7 linked regions of the Homo sapiens genome follow. The protein of the gene in region 7 purifies or fractionates together with the protein of the main gene of each other region. This does not show direct contact. Each region holds a gene or a part of one and is shown on either strand. Other genes may lie near its edges.

Region 1 (3,500 bases), on a different chromosome or scaffold from region 7:
GCAGAATGAGTGGGAGGAAAAGGCAAGGCAGGCTGGCTTATAAACCCATAACCCTTTTAGTTTACACAAAGGACTAAACCTGATCGATTTCAACTTGGGTTTCCCTCCACAAGAAGAGTAGAGGTTTCATGACTCCTGTCAAATCATCACTAAGACAACAAAAGTTTGAATGTCAGGCTCTTGCTCCTTTGCAGCTAGCCCAAGACCAAAGAGCTCCTCAGTGACAAGCACATCCCCTGTCAAGGTTGCAGGCCCAGAACAAACAGAAAATCAGACACACACACAGGTGGCCCTCCCCTTATTTGTCCTTCACTTGAAAGTAGCAATCCTCAGCCAAGGCAGGAAGGGGCTCAGGGAGGCTTAGGAGAGGGGAGGGAAGAGGAATACCTGACCTAGGACAAGCTCTGGAGGCACGAATACAATGCAGAACTTCATTCCATAAACAGCCTCAAAGTGGGCACAGAAAAAAATGTTTGCCATCTCTGAGAACTGTGGGTTCCCCAAACCTTCTCAAGCCTTGAAAGAGCTGACAAGCACAAGTGCTACCTGTAATAGGGGAAATGTTCTGGGGTTGTTCTTGATGAGCAAACTCATCCAGCTGCAGGAGTCAGTCACTGCTCTGGCTGGCTGGCTATGAAAAGGAAATTCTTTTCCATGGCTGTCACTGAATAATTCACAGCTCTTGTACTGTGACACTTAGGCCTCAACTTGGGATAAAAGAAGGGAGATGCAGTCTGGGGACTGACAATAGAGTACAGCACACCCACCCCCAGTGCAGTGCCAGGCGCGACGTGCTCCTAGTGCTTTGGTGACCCAGTGGTGAGGCAGCTGGAAGGCAGGAGGCCTGAGGATGCTCTCACAATTAACTGGATGCCCTTCCTGTCTCCGACTTTCCTCTTTCAAACTTCTCATCTTTCTGCCTTATCTCTCGGGTCCCCTTAACATCTAGCTACTGCAGAAGTCACCCAGAGAGAATCATACTTGCTTGAAATGAGCACCCCGTTTTCTTTTTTCTTTTCTTTTTTTCAGACTGAGTCTCGCTCTGTTGCCCAGGCTGGAGTGCAGTGGCGCAATCTCAGCTCACTGCAACCTCTGCCTCCCGGGTTCTAGTGATTCTCCTGCCTCAGACTCCCGAGTTGCTGGGATTACAGGCACACACCACCACACCCAGTTAATTTTCGCATTTTTAGTAGAGATGGGGTTTCACCATGTTGGGCAGGCTGGTCTCAAACTCCTGACCTCAAGTGATCTGCCCGCCTCAGCCTCCCAATGTGCTGGAATTACAGATGTTGAGTCACGGTGTCCGGCCCCCATTTTCTTTTCTAAAAATATTCACTCTTTACCCATAGACAGATAACAAGGATGAATTACTTTATACATCTAAATGGGACCTATTCCTTTGAACTCTAAAGTTTAGAGTCAAACATGGATGGAGAGGGGGAGTAGTCAGCAATATAAAAATCTCCAGGGGAGGGTGTAGACCCTTGGAAGAAGTCCCCCAAAGTGACTCTCAAATGGATCCCACCTCCAACCAGTGAAGAATCACTGGAATAAACTGTAAAAACCATCTCTTCTGTCCTAGAGCCCTGGTGACAATGGCTAGTGTGCCACTAGCGTTATGCTCTCAAGAGTCAGCCCTGTGCTGCAAGGTTCCCACAAGGCAAGTGACCTGCTTCCTAAGCAGCTCTACATTCTCAGTGAGCAGTGGGGAAGTTCCTTCTCTCTGGAACTTAAGAGGTTCATCTGTGAGACCAGCTTACCCAGCATTCTACAGTTCCAAGTACAGAAAGGTACCAAGGCCCAAATTCAATGCCTGGAGGGACTAAACTTTTAAGACTGAGCTCCTAAAAACAGGTGTCATGGCCAGGCGCGGTGGCTCACGCCTGTAATCCCAGCACTTTGGGAGGCCAAGGAAGGCAGATCACGAGGTCAGGAGATCGAGACCATCCTGGCTAACACAGTGAAACCTTGTTTCTACTAAAAACAGAAAAAAATTAGCTGGGCATGGTGGCGGGCACCTGTAGTCCCAGCTACTCGGGAGGCTGAGGCAGGAGAATGGCGTGAATCCAGGAGGTGGAGCTTGCAGTGAGCCGAGATCGCACCACCGCACTCCAGCCTGGGCAACAGAGCAAGACTCCATCTCAAAAAAAAAAAAAAAAAAAAAACAGGTGTCATTACTCCCTCTGAGAACAACGGATTCTGTATACAGAGAATATCCCTTTCTTGACAGTTCAGCAAAACTTCCTTGAAAAAAATTTCTGCAACAGAAAGGCTGTTACCAACATATTCATTATCTAAGTTTGAAAACTTGTGTTAAGTTATTGACGCATCACAGACCCAGAGCGGGGAGGGTCGGCACAGCTACAGTACTTCAGACTAAACTTAAATGCTGGGGTCGCAGGCTGGGGGAGTTCTCAGGGCTCGCAGGGTGCTTGCACACAGTCCCCACTCGGCTTTACCGATCTGAACTTCCACCTGGGAGAAAATCATCTTGAGGGAGCAGAGGACACAGGAGCCTGGACCTGTCAGCACCACCTACTGACCACAGGCTCAACAACAGCCCCACGTAGCTGATGGAAGCCATCACCACTGGCAACCCAGCCTGCACACCAGAGAGCAGTCCTGTGGGACTGGGACTGTGGAGTCCTGTGGACTCCACATGGAACCTGACAGGCACTCCTTGAGCACACCGCCCCCAGAGGAAAGTGACCAGGACACAGGCTCAAGCCGGAATCCAATGAGCTGAAGGGCTGCTAGCATATAAAAGAGAGTCCAACTGCTCTGTCATACTGGACCCACAATAGCACTGGCTGGCTGGCAAAGCCGTTAGCTCTCTCTCCTGCCACATCTCTGTCTAACAGAGCTGCCAGAGACAAGGGCACTTAACCCAACCTGCTTCCTGCCTCTGCATACGAGAACCCAAGGCTCTACCCTGAAAATTAAAAATATCCCCAGGCTCGGTCTGGCCCGTTTATACACTGAAGTGAATGGATTGACTATTCAGTGAAAGTTGGGCTCTGAACCTGCCTGCCCTGAGGGAAGCAACACCACATATCCTCTCTTTGCTGCTTCCAAGAAGGGCTCTAAGTGTAGGGCATTAAAGCCCAGCTGCTGGTGAGTAGTGATATGAGAATGAAAGCGTTTTTCTCCTCACAACTCCTTAACCATCAGTAACTAAATAAAATCTATTTCAAACAGAACATTTTTAAGAAGTCAATTCAAGACTTTTTAAGGCACAAATAAGTACCCACAGAACCCTCAATTCTAAAATAATCATGTTGGAACATCCTTGGCTGCCTAATTACAAAGCACATATTCCTGCCAACGGACCCCTTCATGAAGTGGCTTTCAGGGGGCAGGGCTATATTGAGGAGACTCAACATGACCAAGTCTATAATCATATCCAAAGTAACTAGATCTGGGTGTATTCATGACACCCAGCTTTCGTTTCAGGGTTCCATGGAAAGTAACTTTTCCCTTGGCTGAATCACACCATTACA
Region 2 (3,500 bases), on a different chromosome or scaffold from region 7:
CTCAAAAAAAATAAAAATTGTAAGCCTTAGGGAGGGGGAATCTTGTGGACCCAGCCTACTTCATGCACCTCTGGGCATGCTAAGGCCCTCCTGCCTCTGGCCCACCTGTTGTTCTCTTCCTAATCTTTGGCTGGTTGTGGCCACCTCATGGACACAGCATGAGTGTACACTTCTGACAACAATACGAGGTGCTCATTAGTGACCCCTCCTGTAGGTCCTGTAGGAGAACAAAGTGAAGAATTTTTACTACCCCCATTTCCTTTCCTTGAATTTCTTTGTTATTTTTAATTTTTTTTTAGAGATAGGGTCTCACTCTCTCACTCAGGGTTGAGTGCAGCAATGTGATCATAGCTCACTGCAGCCTCAACTTCCCAGGCTCAAGTGATGTTCCCACCTCAGCCTCCCAAGTAGCTGGGACTACAGGCCTGTGCCAGCATGCCTGGCTAATTTATGCATTTTTTGTAGAGATGAGGGGGTCTCACTTTGTTGCCCAGGCTGGTCTTGAACTCTTGGCCTCCAGCAATCTTCCCTCCTTAGCCTCCCAAAGTGCTGGGATTACAGGCGTGAGCCACCGTGCCCAGCTCTTTCCTTGAATTTATAAGGGTTCCACAATACTTCTAATCTTAGGAGATGGAAAAATCTTTTGATGAACAAAATGTTCCAAAGCGACGCTCAAGAAACACAGCTGTGGAGCAGAGGCTACGCCGTCTGCAGGACAGGTCCCTCACCCAGCCCATCACCACTGAAGAGGTGGTCATCGCAGCCACGTAAGTGCCCACAGGACTTCTCAGCCTTGTCTATAGTGTCTTTTTTTAAAAAAATACATTTAAAGAGTGTTCAATGAAAATGAGGCATTGGGGAGGTGATTTAGCTAGAAGCCACAGAGAAGTTAGTACTAAGGGATTTTGTTTACTGTGGTCTCTCTAAACTTTGTAATGGGATGTGTATCTTCTAGAAAAACTTGAAAGGAGTTTTTGTTCTATTTTGTTTCTGTCTCTGCATATTGATATTTTAAAAATCTCTTTGACAACGGAAAATAGAAACATGAAACTTGGTGGATTGCTGTGATGAAACCCCAGCTTCCACGGTCACCCGCTCCTGGCCGGTGATGCTCAGCCCGTGTGCCATTCATTTCCCCTTTCCTCCTGTGCTATTTTCAAGCAAACACTAGAGGTCTTACCATTTCATCCATAAATATCCCAGTACGCCCCTCTAAAAGATAAGGTTTGTTTTGTTCTTAATTGCCAGAAATCTCTTTTCTTTTTTTCTTTTTTTTTTTTTTTTTTTTTTTTTTTTGAGAGAGAGTCTTGCTCTGTCACCCAGAACGGAGTGCAGTGGCATGATCTCGGCTCACTGCAACCTCCGCCTCCTGGGTTCAAGCGATTCTCCTGCCTCCACCTCCCGAGTAGTTGGGATTACAGGCATGTGCCACCACACTCAGCTAATTTTTGTATTTTTAGTAGAGACGGGGTTTCACCATGTTGGCCAGGCTGGTCTCAAACTCCTGACCTCAGGTGATCCATGCCTCAGCCTCCCAAAGTGCTGGGATTAATTGCCAGAAATTTCTAAAAATTAAATTGCAGTTTGATAACTTTCCAAACAATAGGAAGTTTGTTTTGAATAATATGTTTCAATATATTCAGAATTAATTTCCCAGAGTAGTTCATTCAGAGATCATTGCTTCAATCAAGTGAAAAATTTTCTTATTTTTGCGGGGGGCATTGTTTGTTTTTTTGAGGCAGTGTCTCACTCTGTTACTCAGGCTGGAATGCAGTGCGCCATCTTGGCTCATTACAGCCTCAACCTCCTGGGCTCAATTGACCCTCCAACCTCAGCCTCCCAAGTAGTTGGGACTGTAGGCCCAACCACCACACCTGGCTAATTTTTGTATTTTTTGTGGTGATGGGGTTTTGCCATGTTGCCCAGTCTGATCTTAAACTCCTGGGCTCAAGCGATCCTCCCACCTCAGCCTCCCAAAGTGCTGGAGCTACAGGCGTGAGCCACTGTACCCAGCCTAGTTTTGTTGTTGTTGATGTTGTTAATTGGTTTTGTGCTTACCTTGGACACACAGACACCCTTCCTGGAAAAAAAAATAGTTCATCCCATTAGGTTATTGACATCCCAAAAGGCCTCTATGTCAGTGCCCCGTTCTGTAGACCTGCTGTTAGATCAGCTGCCTACAGTTCCTCCCCGAGTTGTTCCTCAGTTTCTTGGTGCATTTGTAGCTAAGTATATCCTTGCACTCATTAGGAACTCTTTGCAAATCAGTTTGTTTTTTAAAAAAAGAAATATTTGAATGGCTGGTGTAAAATAACAGGCAGATACCCATGGGAGCAAAACAGTAAATATAAGAAAAATTAATCCCATTTTAAGGCTCAATAAATCTACCTTGATGTGCCTATAGATTGTATAAGAACACTGATACTTTTAAAAAGTAGATTGAGGCCGGGTGCAGTGGCTCACACCTGTAATCCCAGCACTTAGGGAGGCAGAGGTGGGTGGATCACCTGAAGTCAGGAGTTCAAGACCAGCCTGGCCAACATGGTGAAACCCCGTCCCTACTAAAAAATACAAAAATATTGGCCAGGCATGGTGGCGCACGCCTGTAATCCCAGCTACTCGGGAGGCTGAGGCAGGAGAAATGCTTAAACCCAGGAGGTGGAGGCTGCAGTGAGCCGAGATCGCGCCACTGCATTCCAGCCTGGGCGACAGAGTGAGACTCTGTCAAAAAAAAAAAAAAAAAAAAAGGCTGGGCCCAGTGGCTTACACCTGTAATCCCAGCACTTTGGGAGGCTGAGGCAGGTGGATCACGAGGTCAAGAGATCAAGACCATCCTGGCCAACATGGTGAAACCTCATCTCTAATAAAAATACAAAAATTAACTGGGCGTGGTGGTGCGCGCCTGTAATCCCAGCTACTCAGGAGGCTGAGGCAGGAGAATCACTTGACCCCGGGAGGCGGAGTTTGCAGTGAGCCAAGATCATGCCACTGCACTCCAGCCTGGTGACAGAGACAGACTCCATCTCCAAAAAAGAAAAAGAAAGAAAAAAATTAGATTGGAAACAATATTCTAAAACACAGACATAATCTACTGATTTTTTGATAGCTAATATTTGCTTTTTTGAATTATTATTTTTTTTACACCAAGACATGTATTCTCAAGACAGAGTAAATCCTCCCAGCTCTGAACACCTATTCTTACCCCATTTGCTTTGGGTAGCCACTATCTCTTATTTCCTGAGTTTGTATTTGCTTTTGAAGTTCTTTCGTGATTTTTTCTCCCCAAAAATAATTAGCAAAATATTCTGTTAAAATTTTTGATTTAACGTTTCTGAATTTAAAACTATGCTGTCCTTAATGCTTCTTTTCTTCTCTCTCCTTATGAATGTTTCCTCTTTGGCAATTGCTTTTAAAGTGAACCTATCCCCGCTTCGTGTTCTGGGGGCACCCACCCTGTAATGGCGAGACTTCCTAGCCCCACTGTAGCTAGGAGCGCTGTG
Region 3 (3,500 bases), on a different chromosome or scaffold from region 7:
TTGCACTGCTGCTTCCAATTCCAATGAGATTTCCTACAAATCAGAAAATTAAAGACAATCTAAAATGAACACAACACCAAATAAATTTTATTTATATTCAAATAATTCCTTTGGAATTGGAGAATAAGATAGAGTAGGGCAAAAGGAAAACTGTTCCTAAGTGTTATTTTCACATATTTTTCCTGGCTGATCTTGCCTTTTAAAATATTTCAGACAGAGTCTCATTCTGTCGCCCAGACTGAAGTGCAATGGCGTGATCACAGCTCACTGCAGCCTCGACCTTCTGGGCTCAAGCAATCCTTCCACTTCAGCCCTCCGAGTAGCTGAGACCACAGGCACATGTCACCATACCAGCTAATTTTTTTTTTTAATTTTCTGAGATGAGGTCTCACTATGATGTCCAGCCTGGTCTCAAACTCCTGGGCTCAAGCAATCCTCCCACTTTGGTCTCCGAAAGTGCTGGGATTATAGGCGTGAGCTACCACGCCTGGTCTGATACTGACTTTTTAACCAAACTTTATCACACATTTCCCATAATAGTCCTGATCATGTATCTGGCATTTACACTAAAGGCTAGCTATGGTCAGGGGTTGACATTAAAAAACATTCATATTTCATCAATATGCTTTATGCTGAATAATACGGAAAATAATTTTTTAAAAACGTAAGATGTTTAAAACAGTAAAATCACTGGTTTTCTCAGTACAATCTTTTAAGAAACCAGCACGAACAGAACTAACACCTTTCAGTACTTGCCATTCTAAAACACTCATTCATTTATCTACAGGTGTATTTTGGAGCCGACAGAAGCTTGCACAAATAATTAAAACCTATCCTGAGTCTTTAAAACACAGAAACTTTGCTCTGGGAGGGATGCTGATGTCCTCGCCCGGTAGGGTGACAATGATTTCTGACATACAGAATTTCATGCTCCCACCTTTAGGTTTCCTTGCAACAAAGACCAAAATGGTGAGAAGACCAGTTGCACCCATTAGACACCCTGTGATATATAGCAGCATTCTAAGCTATGTGTTTTTTTTTTGACAGAGTCTCACGCTGTTGCCCATTTTTTTTTTTTTTTTTTGGATGGAGTCTCACTCTGTTGCCCAGGCTGGAGTGCAGTGGCACGATCTCGGCTCACTGCAACCTCTGCCTCCAGGTTCAGGTGATTCTCCTGCCTCAGCCTTCCGAGCAGCTGGGATTACAGGCGCATGCCGCCAGGCCTGGCTAATTTTTGTATTTTTAGTAGAGATGGGGGTGGGGGGGGGGTTTTCACAATGTTGGCCAGGCTGGTCTCGAACTCCTGACCTCAAGTGATCCACCCACCTCAGCCTCTGAAAGTGCTAAGATTACAGGTGTGAGCCACTGCGCCCGGCCTAAGCTCCATTTTTTAATACCCTGATAAACACCATTGTCCTTAATGAATTATTTATGTCACTTATTTTTATATCATCAGATTTTAGAAAAAATATTTAGAGCTTTAATATTTAGCAAACAATGGAAAGTATAAAACTATCAAAATTTATGCCTTGTGTTCATACTTGATTTTCTCTTGCCATTGTAGCCAGGTCATCTTGCAGTCTTCTGTTTTCCTTAAAAGCGATTTCTCTAGATCTTCCTACTTCATCGAGTTCTTTGTGAGCTGCATCAAGCTGGCGCCGGAGGCTGTTTATCTCACGATCTCGATTAACCAATGTTTCTTTCAGCTGGCTGTTAAATGAGTGATGTGAAACTAATAAAGAAAACTTTTAAAAACTGTAGTTCATTTAAAAGAAAACTTATAGTCTAAGTATACTTAGAATACAAATATACTGTGATTATAAGAAATTATAACTGCTGCATTAAGAGACCTATTAATTAGGTAGAACAGGTATTTTAGAGCTCTACCAATAATTACATGCAAATGAAGTTAAAAAAAAATGTTATTCCAACAGTCAAGTAAACACAGAAAACTTTCAAGTGTTAAAAGTTGAATAGCTTGGGGGCTGGGCGCGGTGGCTCACGCCTGTAATCCCAGAACTTTGGGAGGCCGAGGCGGGCAGATCATGAGGTCAGGAGATAGAGACCATCCTGGCTAACACGGTGAAACCCCGTCTCTACTAAAAATACAAAAAAAAATAGCCGGGTGTGGTGGCGGGCACGTGTAGTCCAGCTACTTGGGAGGCTGAGGCAGGAAAATGGCGTGAACCCGGGAGGCAGAGCTTGCAATGAGCCGAGATCGCCCCACTGCACTCCAGCCTGGGCAACAGAGCGAGACTCCGTCTCAACAACAAAAAACAACAACAACAACAAAAACAGTTGAATAGCTTGAGCCCAGGAGTTCGAGACCAGCCTGGGCAATATAGGGAGACGTTGTTTCTACAAAAATTTTTTTTTAAATTAGCTGAGCGTGGTGGCACACGCCTGCAGTCTCAGCTACTCAGAAGGCTGAGGTGGGAGGATCACCTGAGCCTGGGGAGGGTGAGGTTGCCGTGAGCAGAGATCTCGCCACTACACTCCAGCCTGTGCGACAGAGTGAGACCTTGTCTCAAAAACAAACAAACAAAAAGTAAAGCATAGATTCAATTGGCAAATATTTATTAAATGTTTATAATCCCCACTATTATATAAAATGTTAAGGGTATGTAAAATAAATATAATAAGTGACTTTTTTCTTGAAGTGGCTTACAATCTGCCTAGAGAGACTATACATAAAATGTAAAATTTTGTGACAGTGCTCAAGATAGGTTTAGATGGAGAATAAATTCGAGATTGGCTACTAAAGTAATTTTAGGTTTTAATGATTAGGCTCCAAGTGGCATAATTATAGTAAAAATAAGGAACAAATAGGTATATAGGAGAATAGTTAATAAGACATAAGTGTTTAGATGTGGATGACAGAAAAGGAGAGGTTAAAGAAGATAACATTTTCAAGCTGGAGACTGAGAAAATGATGCTACCATTGACAAAAATGGGGAAATTGAAAGGGAAATTCTTCTATTGCTGCAATGCTACTGAATAGATAAAGCTGTATTCACTGAAAATCTCCTAAAAAGCTGGATGTAATTTCATTAATGACTTACTTCACAGATGATTCACACTCTGAGATCATTATCTTCATTTGAGCAACAGCTTTTTCCTATAGAAATTACAAAAATGTGTAAGATTTTAAACCAAAATGTCTTTAGCTAAATTTATGTAACTTGTCATATTCATATAGTTCAAATACACAGCTCAATTATATAAAGTATGCCTAAAACAAAGCTCCAAGTAAACATATCTCCATGTCCCAATCATACTTCACATACTGGCATGTTTTGACCAACCCTTGAATAGTTTTCTTGAGTTTGCTTTAATGAGATCTGATAAAATCACATTCTAGAAATAGACAAAATCACATTTTGAAGATTAACATTATTTGAAAAAAATGACATTTAAACATTAGAAAATATGGCCCTAGGTCTTAGAAACTTCTACATGGCCAATAATAACTGCATATTTGGGAAACTTCTGGGTCTAAA
Region 4 (3,212 bases), on a different chromosome or scaffold from region 7:
TATCAGTTTTATAATCATAGAAATTTATTAATTCATAGCTCTTTTTGGAGTTCCAGTGTTTTTTAAGTTTTTAAAGGAACTAGCAGTTTTTGTTTGTTTGTTTGTTTGTTTGTTTTTGGAGACGGAGTCTCGCACTTTTGGCCCAGGCTGGAGTGCAGTGGCATGATCTTGGTTCACAGGAACTAGCAGTTTTTTTAAATACAGCAGCTTTTTCAATTAATAGTGGCTTAGACACCACTGTGAATGCTTGAAAGCACTTTTGTGAGTTTTTTTCCACTACATGAATATGTTAGATAAAAACTTATAAAACTTTTAGGGACAAAAGACAGTTAAATTCATTGCCTATCCCACACGGGGTAACAACCTTGGAAGACATATCAGAAATAAAGCAATTATCTGGATGGATAGTCTGGATGAACATGACACATAAAAAAGGTGCTGATAGTTCTTCTGAAACAATCCCTTTAATGTCCTAGTCATTTAAAACACACATTCAGGAGAAGCCCGAAATAGAAAGCTTTAATGAAAATTACTAAGTTTTGTCCATTACCTTGAATTTGGTTACTATAGTATCTAAATTACATTCTGTAACAAATGCATATGTACATGTGTTAGAATCTTGTGTGTGGAATTTGGTGAGACTTATTAGACTCAACTATTAGAAGACTAAAGGACCTCTGATATATCTGCAATTATTGTTTTTAATTATAATTACATAGATCTATTTACATGGACTTTGAGGACAGATAGTTATGCAATTCAATCATGACTGATTTCTCATACAAATCAACCTTTGAGTCACATCACCTTTTGAAAACGCCTACTAAAAACAAAACAGTTAATGTAGCTGAACAGGAACTGACTGTGGCTCAAAGCTGTGCCAAGGCTCTAAGGCTCATTTTATTGAGGTAGGGAGATCAGCCTGTATTATCCATGTGAGCTCAATGTGATCACAAGGGTTTTGAAAAGTGGAAGAAGGAAGCAGGAAAATTCAGAGTCGGGGCGATGTGGCTACAGATGAATGGTCAGGGAGATGCAACTACTGGCTTTGAAGATAGGGGGAAGAAGGGTCACAAGTCAAGGAATTGAGTGCCCTCCAGAAGCCAGAAAAGGTAAGGAAATGGATTCTTCCCTGGAACCTCCAGAAAGGAACACAGTCCTGCTGACACCTTGGTTTTGGCCCTGTGAGACCTGTGTCAAACTTCTAACCTATAGATAATATATTTTTGTTGTTTTAGGGCATTAAGCTTTTGTTGATTTGTTATCAAATAAATAGGAAACTAATACAGGTATATTTGGGTTATCTTTAAATGTATAGACTTGATGATTTGGAATCACTGAGCTTTCTTATCAATCCTTTGAATTGTTCCAAGTAGTAGATTTATATTAATATCCCATATTTTATTGCCGTAGCACTTAGTTTGAAGATGACAGGTCAAGATTCCAAGGTACAGTTTGTGATCATGGACCAAACTGGAGCTTAGTGCTCTGTAGCAAATTAACCTTTATGGCCTTGGACTTGTGATGAAATGGTAAAGCACATATTAGAATGCCTGAGGTTCCCATCCTGGTCCTTTTATTAGCTATGTAACTTTATGTAAAACACTTATCTTTATGTTTGTTTTCTCAAAGGCAAAACACAAACATTAACATAATTATGTATTAGGGTTGTTGTGAAGATTAAAAGAGATAATGCAAGTAGAGTAATTTACATGGTGTTTCGCACATACAATACCTCTTAACCAATTTTTACCTAGTAAAACTAGCCGATAGGCATACTTACTTATCACATGGTAGAAGACTGGCTAGGAGGCTATTCTCTAACCAACCTTATGCTTTTGTCCCAACAGATGATCAGCTGCATGCTTACAAAAGGCTAGTGGCAGTGGTCATTGAACCTGTTTGTTTTACTTAGGGTAATTATGTAATTTAGTTAAATATTCAGCAGTCCATAAACTGTGAGTGTAAAAGACTTCTGGTTTTATTTGAAAGCTAGGTTGAATGCATTAGAAATACTTTAAAAAAAAAGCTAGTTGCTCCCCTCAACCCATCCCCAGTCAAAAAGTGGTTAAATTGGGTATGGGTAAAAAAACTAAAAGACTGGACAAATGTAGAAAGCAAGGATGAAAGCAGAATCCAGTTTTTCCCCCACTAAAATACTTGAAACTAAAAATGGTAGAAAATGCTTCATGTACCATGGCAATTTGGAAATCCAGCCAGTGGATTCATACTCAAAAGGCTGTGGTCCAACATCAATTGTTGAGTGGATTTACAATTACATTTAAAATAGAAATTAAAGGCATTTATCTATTTTTATGATTTATAAGATTTTAAACATTACCTACTGGCTCTGGTAGTATTATAAAAGGGCTATAACAAGTGCTTTATAAGTGTTAGTTTTGTTACTATTAGCACCATGAGTTGGGTTCTAAACTGGGGATGATTTTGCTCCCAAAGGACATTTGGTGATATCTGGAAACAGTTTTGGTTTTCATAACTGAGAGTTGCGGCTGGCATCTTGTGGACCAGAGATGGTGCTAAACATCCCATAATGTACTGAACAGCCCCCTAAACCAAAGTACCCCATCTAAATGTCAGTAGTGCTGAGGGTGAGAAACCCTCATAGAAACCCCTGCAGGCTAACAAAACTTTGCTAATTCACTAGTGGATAAGATGTCAGAAGTTGTGGAAGAAATCAGATTCATGTCTGTTATATGAAACAATAAGACACACTTTTGTCTGGAATGTTTTTGGAACTGCTGTAGAATAAAGTTTCAGAAAAATTTCATGAAGGTACTTTTAAAGTAAATCTCATCAATCTGGGAATGTTAAAACATGTAGCTGGACAGAACTTAGATTGTCTCCTCTTTAAACTTGTTCATCCATGATTTTTCCCCATTTCAAGCCCAAAACTTTGGCTCATCAGATACAGAAAAGTATTGGCCCTTCATAACAAGACTCACACAAAGACCTAGGTAGCCAAGGCAGTGGCATGAACTAAATATCAGGCCTAGGCCTATCTTTGATGCTTCTTTTGCTTAGAGCCTTCATACCATCTGTCACCAGATCCTGGAACCTTTTATCTGCAAAACATGTCCTGAATCTTTCCCCTTCTCTCCATCACCTTGATTACTCTGGTCTAATCTTCTAGATTATGCTAAGAGCCTCCTCTCTGGTCTCCCATCTAGTCCTGCCCCATGTAGTTTTTAGCA
Region 5 (2,653 bases), on a different chromosome or scaffold from region 7:
CGGCTTCAGTCTGGGGTGGTGGGTGAGGGGCTGCGTGAGAGAGGGAGGCTGGGGGAGGATTACTCTTCGGGTGGCCCCACCCTCACTCATTCCCATTCCCTCATCCTTCTAGGACAGAAGTGGCGGTTGCTGACGCCTGGAAATTCCCCTGAAGGTGGAGCACCACCCAACCCCCCTGGGTCCCACCCTCCCTCAAGGCCTCCTCCACCTCCACCTCCACCCCGCCTGGCCTGGCGTCCACCTCTGCGGCTCCTACCTGGGTGCAATCGAGTTAAATGGCTGATAAGCAGATCAGGTCAGACTCCAGTCCTGGCTGCGTGCCTCACCCCCACCCTGACCCATGGTCAAGGAAGCCGGTCCTGACACCCCTGTCCACACAGCCTGCCAGCCAAGCTCATCAATGGCGGCATCGCCGGGCTGATCGGTGTCACCTGCGTGTTTCCCATCGACCTGGCCAAGACCAGGCTGCAGAACCAGCAGAACGGCCAGCGCGTGTACACGAGCATGTGAGTGTGCCGGGCGGTCGCGGGGAGTGGGCCCAGCATGTGGCAGCAGGAGAGGTGGGGGCTCTGCTCCTGTGCCCCCCACCCTGTTTGACAGAAGGGAAACGGGAGGCAGGCGGGCCTAGGGGAGATCCCACGTGGGTCAGGACTGGGGTCGGGGCTGGGCTGAGGACTTGGCCTCTTCTATCAGCCCTAGACAGTCCAGGGACCCTGGCCTCCGGCTGGCCCCAGCTGGCCCTGGCTCACCCTGTCCCCTTGGCCACAGGTCCGACTGCCTCATCAAGACCGTCCGCTCCGAGGGCTACTTCGGCATGTACCGGGGTGAGGTTTGGCTCGGCTGGGCTCGATATGGGCAGGCCTGGGTAGCGCCCGCGAGTCGTGGCAGGGAGCGGTGGGGGAGGCAGGGCAGGGCGGCCAGCCTGGGCCTGGTGTGTGAGCGTGGACGTGTTTGTGGGGGCTGTGCCTGTGCAGGGGGGACTGGATCTCTGGTGAGTGGTAGTTCTCAGCCTCTCCCGTGGCAGCTCCCCACCCCCACTTAGTGCCTGGTGCGTGGGATGCCATGGTACATCTGTCTCTTCTCTGGTGGCCACAGCTGCCTCTGCCTTCTGGGCCAGGCTGGACCCCGTTTGTGGCTGGGGATGGGAGGGAGTAAGGGGCATTACCGCAAAGCAGCTTAGGACACAATCCAGAGCCTAGATTTGGCAGAAGCTCTCCAGCCCTGAGCCTTCGGCACTGAGATGGGGGCTCTCCACAGCCTCCCCCGAGCTCTGGCCCAGTCCAGACCACACACTCCTGTGACCTCTGGCCCCAGCCCCCTGCCAGCACAAGCACCATCTGTCCTCCAGGGAGGGAGAGGTATCCTAGGGAGGCCTCAGGGGCTCCGGGGCAGTCCTCATGCCCTGAGCAGCAAGATGCTGCCCAGAATCAGAGACAGATGGAGCTGCAGTGGGCATGGGAGAGCCTGAGCCTGAGGTGCTGCCCCATCCCTGCCTGGCCCCGCCCCACCTGGCACACACCAGGCCCAAATGTGGGTGAGAGAACAGATGGTGGCCAGGAGTGACTGGGACAGGGTTTTGCCAGCCAGGAGGCAAGTCCTGGCCAAGCGCCTCCCCACTCAGGCCACCGAGCATGTCCCCCCAGCTGACCCCCTGCCCCACAGGAGCTGCTGTGAACTTGACCCTCGTCACCCCCGAGAAGGCCATCAAGCTGGCAGCCAACGACTTCTTCCGACATCAGCTCTCTAAGGACGGGTGAGGGTTCTGCCTGGCAGACACTCGAGGGGTCTTTGGCTTCAGATAAAGGATGGGTCCACCCTGCCAGCTGGGTCCCACCTGGGGGCTCTGCCTGTCTTCAGCCCCTTGCTTGGGGCTTCTTTGACCTCGTGGGGCACCCTCCCTCCTTTCCCCTGACCAGGGGAGCAAAGCAGATGTCAAATCAGTGGGGCTCTGGCTTGGTAGCCCTTGGCCTGAGGGCACTGACCAGCTCCCCCATCACTGGAGGGGGACTGCAAGGGCAGCCCCTTTTTGGGGCACTTGACCCCCAATTTCCCATTTTCCTTTGTCGCAGACAGCCCCACTGCCCTCCCCAGGCCCCTGCCTGTGGGGCCGTCTGTCCATCGGTCTCCTCCCTGCCTGCTGCTGCAGTGGCGGAGGCTGGGGGCTGTACCCCCACAGGCCTGCATCTGCCTCCACGGCTCCCACCATCCTCTGCGCCCAGGCATGGTGGGCAGCCCCGAGGGTGGCAGGTAGACCTGTCTCTTCCCACTTACTGCGGCCCCGCCCCTACCACAGGCAGAAGCTGACCCTGCTTAAAGAGATGCTGGCGGGCTGTGGGGCTGGCACCTGCCAGGTGATCGTGACCACGCCCATGGAGATGCTGAAGATCCAGCTGCAGGATGCAGGGCGCATTGGTGAGGGCGGGGGGAGGGGGAGGAGAGGGCAGAGGTGCGGGAAGAGGTGAGGGCGAGGGGAGGGTGGGGACGCAGGGAGGGCCAGAGCGTGTCCCCTGCCCAGTTCGCACAGAAGAGGAGACAGCAGCCTCTTTGTCCCCAGCCGCCCAGAGGAAGATCCTGGCTGCCCAGGGCCAGCTCTCGGCCCAGGGGGGTGCCCAGCCCTCAGTGGAGGCTCCAGCTGCCCCTCGGCCCACGGCCA
Region 6 (3,500 bases), on a different chromosome or scaffold from region 7:
TTCTTAGAGATTCCAACATTCCTCTCTCAACAACAGATAGAACAAATAAACAGAACATCAGGAAGCATATGTAAGTCTTGAATAACATTTGTAACCAACTTGACCTAACTGACATTTACAGAATACTAGATCCAACAAAGGCAAGGTACACATTCTGTTAAAGTGCAAATGGAAGATTCACCAAATTAGACTCTAAGTCCATTAAAAAAAAAGGCACAACTAAATAATTTAAAAGTATCATAATCATATGAAGTATGTTCTCTGATCCCACCAATTAAAACTCAATTACAGTAAGATTTCAGGAAAGTTCAAATATTTGGAAAATAAACTCAATTTACTAAACAACTCAGAGATGTAAGTAATGACAAGAAAAATTTGAAAATCACTTTGGCCTGCACAACAGTAAAAACATATCATCGAAATTTGTGGGATGCAGATGAAGCTGTACCTGGAGGGACATTTATAGTATTAAATACTTGTATTAGAAACAAAGAAATGCATGTGAGAACAAAGATCTAAGCATCTACCTTAAAAAGTCAGAATAAGAGCAAATTAAACCCAAAGTAAGAAGAAAGGAAATCGTAGACATAAGACCAGAAATCAATGAAACAAGAAAGGGACAAACAACAGAATTTAATTAATGACATCAAAAGGGGGCCCTCCAAAATGAACAGTAAAATGAATAAATCTCGATCTAGATTGATCAAGAAAAAACAAAATACAAATCACCAACATCAGGCATGAGAGGAGATCACTAGAAATTCTACAAACATAAACTTCTTTCAAAAAACTCCAGGCCCAGATGACTTCACTAGTGGGTTCTACCAAACATCTGAAGAAAAAAGAAAACCCAAAATCTTCCAAAATACAGAAGAGAAGGGAATACTATGTAACTTATTCTATGAAAATGGTATTACCAAGATACCCAGATACTCAAACCAGACAAAAATATCTCAAAAAAAGAATATCCCTTATGAATATAGACAAAAAACCTTCAACAAAATATTAGCAAACACTCTGACAACATATAAAAAGGATTATACACCATGACCAAGGTCATACAAAATTGGTTTAATATGTGAAAATCAACCAATGTAATATACTATATTAGAATAAGAAACAAAAACCACATGAGCACTTCACAAGTGCAGAAAAGCGAATGACAAAATCCAACAGCCTTTCATAATGAAGCACTCAGTAAACTAGGAATAATAACTTAATAAGGGCCATCCTGAGAAACCCACAGGTAACATCATACCTAAAGGCAAGACTGGATGCTTTCCCCTTAAGATCAGGAATAGACAAGGATCCCCACGCTCCCCTTCTATTCAACACTGTACTGGAGGTTCTAGCCAGGGCAAATAGGTAAGAAAAATAAATAGAAAGAACCCAGACTAGAAAGAAAGAAGTAAACCTGTGTCTATTCACAGATGACATGATCTTACACAAAGAAAACCCTGTTGGAACCAACAAATGAGTTTGGCAAGGTTCTAGGATAGAAGATCAATAATCAAAATCAATTTTGCTTCTATACAGTACTAATAAACCAAAATAAAATTAAGAAAACAATTTCATTTACACTAGCATTGAAAATAACACTTAAGAATAAATTTTAAAGGGGAGATGCAAGAGTTGCGCACCAAAAATTATAGAGCATTATTGAAACAAATTAAAGAAGATCTACAATAAATGGAAAGACATCCTGCGGCTAGGGATTAGAAGACCTAATGTTGTTAAATTGGCAATACTTCACAAACTCATCTACAGTTTCAATGCAATCCCTGTCAAAACCGCAGCTGGCTTTTTTATTGTTGCAGAAATTCACGTACAGATCCTAAAATTCACATGGAAATGCAAGGGAGGCAGAACAACCAAAACGATCCTGAAAAAGAATATACTGTGATCGAATGTTAAGTATCGACAGCATCCCAATCATAAACCCGAAACATTTAAAAACAGAAGGTAACTGGCAGGAATACGGCTTGCTGGAAAGCTGCAAGTGGCCCACGCAATTAGTAACAGCCACCTCTTTGCTCTGGCATAAATCTCAACCTTAATCAGAAGAAACTGCATCTGGCAAGAGGAGAGTGAAACTGGGTTTCTAAAACCACTACTTTTTTGAGAGAGGGCCTAGTTACAACCGAGACACTGCTTAGCAACAAAATCCTTTAGGAACTTACTCATTTCCAAAGTCATGATGGGAGCATTAACAACAACACAAATCAATGTTCAGGGCTTTAAATATAAGACCTTTTTGCCCATTCCCAGATCACATGGAATAAATCCTTTGCTAAACATTTGTAATTAAACAAAGATAAGCAGCAAGGTGACTGATCTTGCCATTCTCTTTTCCATATGAACTTCAGGTTATCTGACTCAATCTCTATGTTCCACTCTCTCTCACCCTGTGTTTGGAGTAGGGAAGAGAATGGATTTCACTGTCATAGGAGGAACAGCCTCCTCAGTGCTCTGACAATCAAGTAAAACAGTGCTCGAAAACAGACTCCTGGTCAGTGCTCTCCTTCAAGTATTACTAGCTGCTTTCCTGCTTTCTTGATTAGAATGGTTTTAATCTATTTTTCAATACCAACATCGGAGAGGTAAAAAGCAATGACTCCCCACAGCAGTATTTCTCAGTCTAGACAAGGAATCATGAGAAGAAAGGGCAATATCAGAATTTTAGACGGCCGTGGTGGAGGGTGGGCGTGGAACTCTTGCACTCCTTCTCAGACTATTTTTATTAGTTTATAGATAGCATAACTTCGGATGAAAAAAAAAAGGGGGAAGGTTTTCCAAGACCTATAACATGCCATGTACTTTAGAGACTTGCTCCTCGCAACAACTCTCTGCCATGGGTTAGCACTGCCCCATTTATAAGTGAAGAAACAAGAAACAAAGTATAAGAATTGAAAACTGTAGAAAGAAAAAAATGACAGAAGATTTATCCTATCATATCAGGTCTACATACCTGGTACTTCTAGTAGCAAAAAGTAAAGCCCAGCGGCATGAAGGCCATATTCTCGATACTGTACACTGACATTCTTCTTATGAACTATTTGAACAAAATGATAGAACAATGCCACCAGTGTACTATGGGAAACATTGTTCTCAATGAAGAAGGTCCAGATACTCTGTGGGGAGACCGCAAATCACAAAAGCCAGTCATTAGAGAAATGGAAACATTTCCTATTATTTGATTTTTGTAAGTTCTTGGTGCCTTACAAAAAGAGGAATAGAGTAGCCTGGCTCCTACTGCTAAATGTTTACCATCTTCAAAGGGACTGAAACAAAATATCAAAATTAAAGGTATATTATTCAAAATTACCAAGATAAATATGTATATAACATATTTAAATAATTAAACTTTCAAAAGAATTTTTTGTTAAGTTTGTAGCATATATACTTCAGAAATTATAGCTTAAAACTACACTAAGACTTTTGGGACACCATATATTAGTGATTATTCAGGAAAGTTATCCCTCTATTTATATTAAAAGGAA
Region 7 (4,038 bases):
AGAAGCCACCCCTCCTTGGTCTCAGCCATTTCTAGGATAACAGAAAATGTGGACAATGAAAGGCTGGGCAGGACCAAGGGCACTAGGGGCATCAGAGGAGTCTCGCCCCATGACATCCAGGCTAGAAGAGGCCTTGGAAGTCCCCCAGCCCAGCCCTCAGCCCCTAGACGAGGCTGAGGCCCAGGTCAGGTGGCAAGTCAGTGCAGCCACCCCATGCCTGCAATGCCTCCTTTCCGTGGCTGCCAAAGGACATGACCCCCTGGGTGCGGGCACACATAGAGTTGGAGCTTTGCCCCTTGGGGGAAGGGTCTGGATGCAGTTGCCCCACACGGGCCCAGCCCCTCTCCAGAGGCTGTCCCGCTCGGCAATATCATCTCTCCTGGGGGGATTTCCTGGGCACAGGACATTGCTCAGGTCTCCAGCCTATGGGGGAGCAGACGGTTTCAGGCAGGACATGTTCCGGTGTGGAAGTGACCAGCCTAGAGTCACAGAACCCAGTGGCAGCAGAGTTGCCATCACCTACACCTCTGGTCCCCTTCAGCCACGTAGTCTGCCCCAGCATGTGTGTGTGCCTCTGTGTGCCTGGGTGGACAGGGCTCGTCTCGTACCTGTACGTGGCCACCTCCAGGCTGAGGGACATCTTGAGGTGCGCCAGCTGCTGCCGACCTTCCAGGACCTGAGCGATCTGGCTCTGTAGGCCCTGTTTCTCCTGCTCCAGGGCCTCCACAGCCAGCTGCAGGGCAGGCGAGAGGCAGTCAGTGGAGGGGCTGGGGTCCCTTCTGTGAACCAACCTGCCTCCTGCCCGCTGCCGCTGCCCGGGAAGCACCTCCTGCTCCCTGGCTGACTTATCTGTGTAGCAGACCCCCGCCTCCCCTACCCTATTCCCTGCCCAGAGAGCCCCCTCTGGATCAGCCAAGATGAGCCCAGGGCCCCTGTCAGCACTCTCAGCTCTCTCCCATGGCCTGCTCCTCCTCTGAGGATGCTGATTAAATGGTAGCACATGTTGCTCAGAACACAGCTCCCACAGGAAGGGGAGGTGAGGGAGGAGACGAGATGGGTTATGGAGAGAGAAGAGGGGGAAAAAAAAGCGAAAGCAGAAGGAAAAACGATTAATCAAGATGCCTGGAGCCTGCAGGACTGGAAGGCAAACAGCCCCCGTCCCCCGTTGGTCCCATCTCCCACAACTGTCTCCTGCTCCTCACAGCAGGCTCTCACCCCCGCCCCACCCCCATTTCCCACATGTTCTGGATTCTGTCTCCTCTGAGAGGAGGGATGGGGAGGTGGCCATGGCACCTCTGTGTGGCCCAGGCAAGAAGCTGTTTTCTCAGCTGCTGGTCACATCTGTGCCCTGTGAGAAGGAGCAGCTGTTATGGGCCTCTGGAATGTGCTCCAGGGAGCCGAGAAGCCATGACATGGGAGGGGGCTGGTAGCCATTCATTCACGGCCCCTCACTCCTCCCCTCAGGAGAAGGAGGGCTGTGAGGAACTTGGTGATTCTGAGTGGCCAGGCCACCAGATTCAGCGCAGAGGCGACAGTGCTGGGTGTCCTCCTAGTAATACCAGAGCCTGGGAAGGGACCCGGAGCCCCGGTCATCATCAGAGCCAGAAGGTGCCATCCAGAGAGTGGCGGGGCTGCTGCAACGGGTCTTGGGCCTGACTGCCCACCCGGGATGTGCTTCGAGAAGCCCCACCATTCGCATCCTACACTAGACGGGCTGTAAAAGTCTAGGACTTGTGGCACCAGGTTTCTGAGAACTGGCTCCTGATTCAGCAGCCAGCTAGCCCCACTCCCTTCCCAGAAGGTCTCTGAGCTTCATAAGGGACTTTCTGGAGCTTTCTGGGACTTTCTCTCACCCAGGCCCTCAACCTCCTCACCTGGAACTTTTCAGTAGCCCGCAGCCGCTCCTGCCAGCGGCCCTCCAACCTCTGTTCCAACGCTGCCCTGCGCTCCAGGAGGCCTCCGCGCTCAGCCTGGAGCTGCTGCAGCTCCAGGCGGCCCTCGCGGGCACCCTGCACCGCCCGGCCCAGCCGCTCGCGGGCCTGGCCCAGCGACGTCTCCATGTGTGCCACGCGCTCCTGGTAGCCGCGCACTGCCCCGCGCCACGCCTCGCCCAGTCGCCTTGCCAGCTCCTCTACCTCCGGGGCCGGCGCGGGAGGCCCGCGGGGCGGCGCGGGGCAGCGGGGGGCACAGGCAGCCTGCGCGTTCAGGCCGACGCGCTCCTCCTCGTGCGCCACGCGTAGAGCCTCTAGCTCGCGCTCCAGCTCTGCCACCTGGCTACTCAGCCAGGCCCGGGCGCATTTCTCTGCCTCGACGGCGCGCCGGTTGCGGGCTACCTCCTCCGTCGTCCGCTCCCGGGCCAGCCGCAGCTGCTGGCATCGGCCTGCCACGCCCTCCAGCTCTTCAGCCAGGTTGTCGCGCGCCACCTCGGCCGCGTGCTTCTCCCGCCAGCGTTGGTCAACGAGGGCCCGCAGGGCCGCCAGCTCGTCGTCGGCATGCGCCCGCCAGGAGGTGTCCGCGGATTGTGCCCGGAGCCCCCCGAGCTCCGCGCTGAGCAGCTCATTCTGCTCCTCCAGCGCCTTGACCCGGGCCAGGTAGGCCTCCAGGCGCCGATTGAGCTCCCACATCTGAAACGACTCCTCCCCCATGCAGCCCTCCATCCTGCTCGTCTGACCCACTGAGGATGGACAGACGCGGGGCACCGGGAGAAGGGAGCGGCTCGCAGAGCTTTTAGGACGGAAGAGAAAAGAGACCGACGGGGACAATGACGGGGCGGGGCGGGGTGGGAGTAGCCTGAGCGACTGAGAGTCGGGAGTGGGAGCGAGGCTATTCATACTCCCGCCAGGCGGGCGGGAAGAGGGGCGGGACCCAGGCCTTAACCCCTTAGAGGTCAGAGAGTGGCAGCAGCCTCTGTTCCTGCTTCCCCAGGGTGCTGGAGAGTGGAACCAAAGAAGAAGCTGTACCATGGAGAATCGGATCTGATGGTGGTGGCTTTCTGAGGGAGGAGGCTGTGAAGAAGGGTCACAATCCCCGAAAAAGGCAGATAATGCACAGAACTGAGCCTGTGGGGGTGGGAGTACCAGGACGTTCCAGCCTGGGAGGGAGTGCAGTCTCAGTTACTCAACACATCCGAGAGAGGTATCACTTACTGAATTCCTCTAAGACTCAGTTTCCTCATCCATAAAATGTGAGCAATGATGGAAATCGCATGGCTGCTGAAAAAAATGGATGTGGCCAGGTTTTTGTTTTTCGTTTTTGAAATAGCAAATGCTCCTCCTCCTGAAATACTGGAGAGAGTACTACAGCATTGCAGAAAGAAGCTAGAGAGACGCTGCCTGGAAAACAAGAACAAATGTCTGATATTAGGACACACGGATACACACACACACACACACACACACACACACGCACACACGCTATTGCCTGAGTCTCCATCAGAAAAGGGAGCGACCAGGTTAAGGGCCGTCATGGGCTTAAGAACGTTTGTCCATCCTTCCTACAAGTCTTCTGTATAACTGCGAGGTTCAAACATCCGCTTTAGGAAGTTCTGTTCTTGGGGAAGGGCCCCTTCTCCCGCACCCCCTGCCAGGGAATGTTGGGTAGTGGACGCCCTCTGGCGGCTTTCAGAAGTGGAAGCAGCAGGAAGAGGCCATTCTTTTCCTTCCTAACGACTAGCCCAAGTTTATCCAGCCTTTATGATGTGCCCAGTCGTGTTCCAATATTTTACTTCCATGATCTGACTTAATCTTCAAAACAACCTTTTAAAGATTCTACAGTTTATGAAGTAGAGAGCTCACCAAGGGTGAGAGTAGTAGGGAAGGCTTTCTGGACGGAGTGCATCCTTGAGCTGGGAGGTAAAGGACAGGTGGGATTTGGGGGATTTACAGTGAAGGAGAAGTAGGGCTGGGGAGGAGATGCAGGGATAATGAGACGGAGGGGATCTTTGGGGAAGGCGTTTCTGATCAAGCTGCTAAATCCAATTTAGCTCAAGTGTTAATTGAGTACCTACTATGTGTCAGCACCAAAGAGATTGCAGGAACT

What was found.
Region 1: the proteins of NES (region 7) and CLTA purify together in Homo sapiens (affinity purification with mass spectrometry; one large-scale study listed by BioGRID and IntAct). This does not show direct contact.
Region 2: the proteins of NES (region 7) and SVIL purify together in Homo sapiens (affinity purification with mass spectrometry; one large-scale study listed by BioGRID and IntAct). This does not show direct contact.
Region 3: the proteins of NES (region 7) and CEP135 purify together in Homo sapiens (co-immunoprecipitation; one large-scale study listed by IntAct). This does not show direct contact.
Region 4: the proteins of NES (region 7) and RNF13 purify together in Homo sapiens (affinity purification with mass spectrometry; one large-scale study listed by BioGRID and IntAct). This does not show direct contact.
Region 5: the proteins of NES (region 7) and SLC25A22 purify together in Homo sapiens (affinity purification with mass spectrometry; one large-scale study listed by BioGRID and IntAct). This does not show direct contact.
Region 6: the proteins of NES (region 7) and NCAPD3 purify together in Homo sapiens (affinity purification with mass spectrometry; one large-scale study listed by BioGRID and IntAct). This does not show direct contact.

Annotation. Positions count from the first base shown.
Region 1 is NC_000009.12:36,204,421-36,207,920, reverse strand, and holds part of CLTA (clathrin light chain A), read right to left. Parts: intron 3,201-3,500; exon of another isoform or gene 1-3,200. UniProt on the Homo sapiens protein: Clathrin is the major protein of the polyhedral coat of coated pits and vesicles.
Region 2 is NC_000010.11:29,526,972-29,530,471, reverse strand, and holds part of SVIL (supervillin), read left to right. Parts: intron 1-627; coding exon 628-767; intron 768-3,415; coding exon 3,416-3,500.
Region 3 is NC_000004.12:56,007,945-56,011,444, reverse strand, and holds part of CEP135 (centrosomal protein of 135 kDa), read right to left. Parts: intron 3,119-3,500; coding exon 3,063-3,118; intron 1,711-3,062; coding exon 1,542-1,710; intron 34-1,541; coding exon 1-33. UniProt on the Homo sapiens protein: Centrosomal microtubule-binding protein involved in centriole biogenesis. Acts as a scaffolding protein during early centriole biogenesis.
Region 4 is NC_000003.12:149,956,215-149,959,426, reverse strand, and holds part of RNF13 (E3 ubiquitin-protein ligase RNF13 isoform 1 precursor), read right to left. Parts: intron 1-3,212. UniProt on the Homo sapiens protein: E3 ubiquitin-protein ligase that regulates cell proliferation. Involved in apoptosis regulation. Mediates ER stress-induced activation of JNK signaling pathway and apoptosis by promoting ERN1 activation and splicing of XBP1 mRNA.
Region 5 is NC_000011.10:792,629-795,281, reverse strand, and holds part of SLC25A22 (mitochondrial glutamate carrier 1), read left to right. Parts: exon of another isoform or gene 1-18; intron 19-112; 5' UTR 113-275; coding exon 276-295; intron 296-380; coding exon 381-506; intron 507-693; coding exon of another isoform or gene 694-768; coding exon 769-824; exon of another isoform or gene 825-829; intron 830-1,662; coding exon 1,663-1,753; intron 1,754-2,293; coding exon 2,294-2,412; intron 2,413-2,515; coding exon of another isoform or gene 2,516-2,554; coding exon 2,555-2,653. UniProt on the Homo sapiens protein: Mitochondrial glutamate/H(+) symporter. Responsible for the transport of glutamate from the cytosol into the mitochondrial matrix with the concomitant import of a proton. Plays a role in the control of glucose-stimulated insulin secretion.
Region 6 is NC_000011.10:134,213,968-134,217,467, forward strand, and holds part of NCAPD3 (condensin-2 complex subunit D3), read right to left. Parts: intron 3,132-3,500; coding exon 2,969-3,131; intron 1-2,968.
Region 7 is NC_000001.11:156,674,608-156,678,645, forward strand, and holds the start of NES (nestin), read right to left. Parts: upstream 2,801-4,038; 5' UTR 2,658-2,800; coding exon 1,875-2,657; intron 734-1,874; coding exon 609-733; intron 1-608. UniProt on the Homo sapiens protein: Required for brain and eye development.